Homo sapiens: one gene and its partner. The protein of the gene in region 1 interacts with the protein of each later gene in a biochemical or structural test. Each region holds a gene or a part of one and is shown in the gene's direction. Other genes may lie near its edges.

The links.
Region 2: the proteins of USP19 (region 1) and WWC1 interact in a test that uses a peptide from one of them, tested with the Homo sapiens proteins (one large-scale study listed by IntAct).

The regions. Positions count from the first base shown.
Region 1 is NC_000003.12:49,110,684-49,114,497, reverse strand, and holds part of USP19 (ubiquitin carboxyl-terminal hydrolase 19), read left to right. Parts: intron 1-213; coding exon 214-324; intron 325-404; coding exon 405-506; intron 507-1,868; coding exon 1,869-2,009; intron 2,010-2,095; coding exon 2,096-2,214; intron 2,215-2,449; coding exon 2,450-2,587; intron 2,588-2,684; coding exon 2,685-2,998; intron 2,999-3,132; coding exon 3,133-3,243; intron 3,244-3,331; coding exon 3,332-3,548; intron 3,549-3,634; coding exon 3,635-3,787; intron 3,788-3,814. UniProt on the Homo sapiens protein: Deubiquitinating enzyme that regulates the degradation of various proteins by removing ubiquitin moieties, thereby preventing their proteasomal degradation. Stabilizes RNF123, which promotes CDKN1B degradation and contributes to cell proliferation.
Region 2 is NC_000005.10:168,469,343-168,472,815, forward strand, and holds the end of WWC1 (protein KIBRA), read left to right. Parts: 3' UTR 1-2,961; downstream 2,962-3,473. UniProt on the Homo sapiens protein: Regulator of the Hippo signaling pathway, also known as the Salvador-Warts-Hippo (SWH) pathway.

The DNA.
Region 1 (3,814 bases):
GGCTAAGCTGAGTAGGGCTTTGAGTGCCAGAAAGAAGGATTGTTATTTCCTGGTGGTCCTCCTGCCCTGTCTAGTGTCCTGAAGCCTGAGAGTTTGCTGGTTGGCTGTGGGGGCCCTGAGAGCCATCAGAAGCCCCGGAATGGGCTCTCTGAGCATGAGCATCTTATCTCCCACTCTGTGTGCAGCTACCCAGTGCCACCTCTACATCCACAGGTCTCCATCACTTTTGACCCGTTTCTTTATCTGCCGGTGCCCTTGCCACAAAAGCAAAAGGTTCTCCCTGTCTTTTATTTTGCCCGAGAGCCCCACAGCAAGCCCATCAAGGTGAGGAGTAAGCCCCTACCCTCTGGGCTGTTCTAGAGAACGTGGCCCACCTCCCTCACTGACTGCCCTTTTTGCCACAGTTCCTGGTGAGCGTCAGCAAGGAGAACTCCACTGCGAGCGAAGTATTGGACTCCCTCTCTCAGAGTGTTCATGTGAAGCCTGAGAACCTGCGTTTGGCGGAGGTATCTTTGTCCTTCCTTGGGCTATCACATGTGTGGATGTGTGTGTGTACTCACCACAGACGTGTGTACAGTCATTGGCATCTACAGACATACACATGGGCTGGGCACAGTGGCTCATGCCTGTAGTCCCAGCACTTTGTGAGGCCGAGGTGGGCAGATCACTTGAGCCCAGGAGTTTGGGACCAGCCTGGGCAACTTGGTGAAACACTGTCTCTACAAGAAATAAAATTAGCTGGGCATGGTGGTACGTGTTATAGTCCCAGCTACTTGGGAGGCTGAGGCAAGAGGCTCACTTGAGCCCGGGATGTGGAGGTTGCAGTGAGCAGAGATTGCACCACAGCACTCCAGCCTGGGTGACAGAGTGAGACTCTGTCTCAAAAATAAATAAATAAATAGATAAAAAAATAAAAATAGGGCCAGGCGTGGTGGCTCATGCCTGTAATCCCAGCTCTTTGGGAGGCCAAGGCTGATGGATCACAAGGTCAGGAGATCCAGACCACCCTGGCTTACATGGTGAAACCCCACCTCTACTAAAAATACAGGAAAAGTTAGCCGGGCGTGGTGGCACATGTCTGTAGTCCCAGCTGCTCAGGAGGCTGAGGCAGGAGAATCGCTTGAACCTGGGAGGCAGAGGTTGCAGTGAGCCGAGATCGCGCCACTGCACTCCAGCCTGGGTGACAGAGTGAGACTCTGTCTCAAAAATAAAATAAAATAAAATAAAAATAGACATACACATGAGTATGCCTGTGACTGTACAAAAACAGGCGATGTGCTGTTATTTTTTCTGTGCAACAGAAGTGCCCTCAGTTCCTAGCCATTATCAGGGTTTATTCCCCTTTGTGGTGGTGGATCCCAACTGCATTTCCCTTTTTAGACAAGGAGCTTGAGCTGCAGGACTATCCCTATGTTCGCTCTGCCTCTCCCTCTATCCTGCTGCTCTCTCCTTTTATCCCAGTTGTGTGTGCTAGCTCTCCCCAGGGGTTCCTAGCCTTTAGCCTGACAGTGTTGGTTTTCTTAGGGGTAAGAGTGGGGAGGAGGCTCTTTGAATGTGGACCCTCCATGATAATATGTTACAGTCTTATAAGGCTATGCTAGTTATAGCAGGGCAGAGTCCCTCAGTGTGGAGAGCTGGTGTGGTTGATATCTGCCTCACACCTGGTCTTTCAGGCCCTCTGATGCACCAGGCTCCTTATGGCATTGGGCACTGAGACAGGTGCCAGCAGAGGCATAAGCCTATTTGGGCCTACAGACCTCACCACTGCCCACATAGACCCAAGGCAGGGCCAAGCCTTCTTAAACTCTGGGGCAGGGCTAGGGAAAGGGCTTATCCTCACGTGGGATCTGTGTGTTCTCTGTCCCCAGGTAATTAAGAATCGTTTTCATCGTGTGTTCCTACCCTCCCACTCACTGGACACTGTGTCCCCATCTGATACGCTCCTCTGCTTTGAGCTGCTATCCTCAGAGTTGGCTAAGGAGCGGGTAGTGGTGCTAGAGGTGCAACAGGTGAGTGGGGGCCAACCTGATGGCACAGCGCCCTGGTGGGTGGGGCACTTCTTCCTGGTCTTGCTGAGCCAGACGACCCACCCTAGCGCCCCCAGGTGCCCAGCGTCCCCATCTCCAAGTGTGCAGCCTGCCAGCGGAAGCAACAGTCGGAGGATGAAAAGCTGAAGCGCTGTACCCGGTGCTACCGTGTGGGCTACTGCAACCAGTGAGGACCCCCATGGTCTCCCCTACCCTTTCTTTCCACCTTCCATGTGCCACCCTGCTCCTTCCCTTCACACCAAGGCACATATGCTTAAGCTTTCTACTTGCCACCCTACTTTACCAGGCTCTGGGGGAGGCAGGGCTGGCGTACCCAGTTCCCAGGGACTATGACTAGCCCCCAGTATGGAGTCATAGGAGATGGGGCTAAGGGCCTATCCTTGTCTTCCTCTTCCCGTCAGGCTCTGCCAGAAAACCCACTGGCCTGACCACAAGGGCCTCTGCCGACCTGAGAACATTGGCTACCCCTTCCTGGTCAGTGTACCTGCCTCACGCCTCACTTATGCCCGCCTCGCTCAGTTGCTAGAGGGCTATGCCCGGTAAGTGCCCAGTGGTTGGACTAGAGTGGTGTAGGTGGGGGCAGAGGTGCTAGATGGGCTGGTCAGGAGTCTTACTTGCGTTGTTCTCTGTTGCCAGGTACTCTGTGAGTGTATTCCAGCCACCCTTTCAGCCAGGCCGCATGGCCTTGGAGTCTCAGAGCCCTGGCTGCACCACACTGCTCTCCACAGGTTCCCTGGAGGCTGGGGACAGCGAGAGAGACCCCATTCAGCCACCTGAGCTCCAGCTGGTGACCCCTATGGCTGAGGGGGACACAGGGCTTCCCCGGGTGTGGGCAGCCCCTGACCGGGGTCCTGTGCCCAGCACCAGTGGAATTTCTTCTGAGATGCTGGCCAGTGGGCCCATTGAGGTTGGCTCCTTGCCAGCTGGCGAGAGGGTGTCCCGACCCGAAGGTAAGATCCAGTGAAAGGCTCTAGAAGCTGGGGAGGAGGATAAGGGAGGATGGAGGGGGCTGTTGTTTAGGGCCTGGTGGGCCTGGTGAGGCCCTGATGGGCAGGGAAGCTTTGATTATCATGTTCTCACACAGCTGCTGTGCCTGGGTACCAGCATCCAAGTGAAGCTATGAATGCCCACACACCCCAGTTCTTCATCTATAAAATTGATTCATCCAACCGAGAGCAGCGGCTAGAGGACAAAGGTGTCTGAGGCTGTGGGTGGGAGCCATGGGGTGGGTTGAGCTGGCTGTTCTCCACAGCTGCATGACCTCTCTCCCTGCGAATCTCCAGGAGACACCCCACTGGAGCTGGGTGACGACTGTAGCCTGGCTCTCGTCTGGCGGAACAATGAGCGCTTGCAGGAGTTTGTGTTGGTAGCCTCCAAGGAGCTGGAATGTGCTGAGGATCCAGGCTCTGCCGGTGAGGCTGCCCGGGCCGGCCACTTCACCCTGGACCAGTGCCTCAACCTCTTCACACGGCCTGAGGTGCTGGCACCCGAGGAGGCCTGGTGAGAACAGAGCAGCAAGTAGATAAGGGGGCAGGATGGAGAAGAGAGAGACTTGCTGGTCCTGACCCAATCTCTGTCCCCACCAGGTACTGCCCACAGTGCAAACAGCACCGTGAGGCCTCCAAGCAGCTGTTGCTATGGCGCCTGCCAAATGTTCTCATCGTGCAGCTCAAGCGCTTCTCCTTTCGTAGTTTTATCTGGCGTGACAAGATCAATGACTTGGTGGAGTTCCCTGTTAGGTAAGCAGTGGACCTTGGTAACTGTGG
Region 2 (3,473 bases), on another chromosome or scaffold:
AAAATCGTTTAGATTTTTTTTGGTTTGTACAGCTCCACCTTTTAGAGGTCTTACTGCAATAAGAAGTAATGCCTGGGGGACGGTAATCCTAATAGGACGTCCCGCACTTGTCACAGTACAGCTAATTTTTCCTAGTTAACATATTTTGTACAATATTAAAAAAATGCACAGAAACCATTGGGGGGGATTCAGAGGTGCATCCACGGATCTTCTTGAGCTGTGACGTGTTTTTATGTGGCTGCCCAACGTGGAGCGGGCAGTGTGATAGGCTGGGTGGGCTAAGCAGCCTAGTCTATGTGGGTGACAGGCCACGCTGGTCTCAGATGCCCAGTGAAGCCACTAACATGAGTGAGGGGAGGGCTGTGGGGAACTCCATTCAGTTTTATCTCCATCAATAAAGTGGCCTTTCAAAAAGAATCTTCCTCTTGCTCTCTTTTTCTTTCCTACCCCTCACTTCATCTGTTTCCCTGATTTTTGACTCTCCCCTTTCCAGTCATTTCTTTCCCACCCATCCGCAGTCCTGGAAACATTTATTTTTTCTTTTGCCCACTGTTTTCATTTGCTCATTAAATTAAAATGACTGCTCGGCTCATTGGGAATCCACATCCCCAAGTTAGACTGGGGATATGCTCTCTGTACTGTCTCCTTCTATGGAATTCCACCCCACCCAGAGAGAGATGACTTCACAGTTTGTTCATATGAGCATCATCCCATGTCGTCCCCAACCCAGGGGCTGGTAGGTGCTACAGCTTGTGCTTCATGCTGCTCCTGTGGCCCCTATTCCTACCCAGCTCAGAGCTTTGCAGGGTCTACTGCAGACAATCAGAAGTCAGTTTCTAACAAATAGCAACAGCCACAAATCTCTTCCTCCTTCCTCTCTGACATTACCCTGTGCAACTTTTCTCAAAGTCTGTTGCACCACTCAGCAAAGCAAGTTGCACCAGCTATATCAGAATCACCTGGGGCAGCCTATTAAAAATGCAGACTGTTGAGACCATCCTGGCTAACACGGTGAAACCCTGTCTCTACTAAAAATACAAAAAATTAGCCGGCCGTGGTGGCGGGCAGCTACTCGGGAGGCTGAGGCAGGAGAATGACCTGAACCTGGGAGGCAGAGCTTGCAGTGAGCTGAGATTGTGCCACTGCACTCCAGCCTGGGTGACAGAGCAAGACTCCGTCTCAAAAAAAAAAAAAAAAGAAAAATGCAGACTGGCTGGCGCGGTGGCTCATGCTTGTAATCCCAGCACTTTGGGAGGCTGAGGCGGGCAGATCAACTGAGATCGGGGGTTCGAGACCAGCCTGATCAACATGGAGAAACCTGGTCTCTACTAAAAATACATAATTAGCTGGGCGTAGTGGCGCATACCTGTAATCCCAGCTACTTGGGTGGCCAAGGCTTGAACCCAGGAGGCGGAGGTTGCGGTGAGCCGAGATGGCGCCATTGACTCCAGCCTGGGCAACAAGAGCGTAACTCCATCTCAAAAAAATAATAATAATAAAAATAAAATGCAGACTGTCAGGTCCTCTCTAGACCCACTGAACTATCCCGCCCACCCTGGGACGGTCCCCAGTGCCAGTGTTTTACCCATGTTCCCTCTGTAAGTCTTATGCACACCGCAATTTGAGAGCCCCACTGGTATAAAGTGAGTGAAACCCAGGCAGAGACAGGCAAAATGGTGAGGCCCGCATCCTATTGGTGAGTCACACAGGGAACGCTGAAATTCATGGCCTTCTCCAGGCTACTGGGAACCCATGGGCGGTGATGGAGGGAGTGGTGCCACCTTCACTTGCTGCTGAGGCTCTTCCCCCTCTCCCCAGCATACTCCTTACCTGGCTGTCTCTCCTCATGTATAAGGAACCTATAGTGGTGTAGAATCTACTCTTCTTCCCCCTGTGGCTTCCAGGCCCCCCTGTATAGCTGCTATCCAGCCCGATTTCTCACCACTGGCCCAGGGCTTCCTCCTGCCCCGTGGCTTCACGTCTCTGAACACATCAATCTCTGATGTTCTCTCTCCTTCCATTGAATTCCACCAGACACATTCAGGGTTTACTTCGTAATGTCTTCATATGAGTATCAATCAACACCTTCCCCAACTCAATTGTACTAGGTTGTAGAGCACAAGGATGGTCTCGTGCTGCTCTGTGGCACCTGTGCCTACACTCCTCTGAGCTTTGAGGAGGCTGCTCTCTTTGCTGACCCCATGATCTTTTCTGCCCTTCTGTTAAGGGCATTGGCCACAGCAACGGGGCAAATGCCCCAAGCTGGCTGTAAGTGACCCATCCCTTTGGCTCCCATGATTAGACCAAGGAGAGGCATGGGGTCCAGCTGAGCCATTCAGAACCATTCCTTAGCATTTTCCACTCAAAGGTTAGAGATGAGATTTTCTCTTCCCAAGGCTACCTCTGGCCATGGTTCCAGCTTCATGGGGGCAATGGGATTAGGAAAATGAGGTCAACCTGCAAAGGAAAGCAGATGCAAGAGATGGAGACAGAATGGGGGTGTCCTGGGGATCTTGGAGCCTGAATTCATTGGCACAAAAGGCAGCAGCATCCTCACTGTATCTGCAGTCCATTTGGACTCAATAAAAACTTTGAAAGTCACATGTGTTATGGAATTCCTTCTCAGTGACACATTCATCTGTGCTCAGTTGTCCCAGCAAGGGTCAGCCCCTCATACCCCTGCAGCATCCGCTGCTATGAAGCAGAGCTGTAAACGCCCTCCCTGTGTATAGGAAAAGCTACATGGAGCAAATCCTCCTGCCTGAAGAAGTGCATCTCAGCATCACTTCAGCTGTCGGGGCATTTGTGGGGAGAACCAGACCACCTCTGCGGAAGGCAGCAGACCCTCTTCCAGCCATGGATGGAGTTGAATTCTCTATAAACGGTTCACCAGCAAACCACCAATACATTCCATTGTTTGCCTAGAGAGAAATTTAAAAATAAATAAATGTTCACTTATAATTGTGCATGTGTCTTTTCCAGGACCTTCAGGAAACAAAGCCGGGAAATGTGAAATGACCCCCTCAAGCTCACATAAATAATAAATGGCTACAGCTAGGATGCTAATTCCATCTTTCAACTCCAAAATCTCTATTTTCTTTCAGCTCCAGCTTCTGTTTCACGGTGGCGTTACCACAGCACACCACATGAGGCCCTAATTGTAGAGCCGTAGAATCCTTGGTCTTGAAGAATGAAGTCACAAATTCCTGTGGTTTCTCTGCACAGGGTGGGGAGAAAGGCAGGATACTAGGATACTACTCTGAAAAAAGACAGCAAACCTCACTGGGTTTGGTCCTCCCACTCCTAAAGGCAACGGTTGCCTTTGAGTACAGACCTTTTTGCAATATGCACATGTGCTTTCTGTATCTCAAGAAGGCTAATGACTAAGATTCTTCTAGTTAACTATCCCCTTGCTAAGCAGTCTCCAGCCACGCTGGCCTTTCTTTTTCTCCTTCCCTCCACCAGCACTTTGC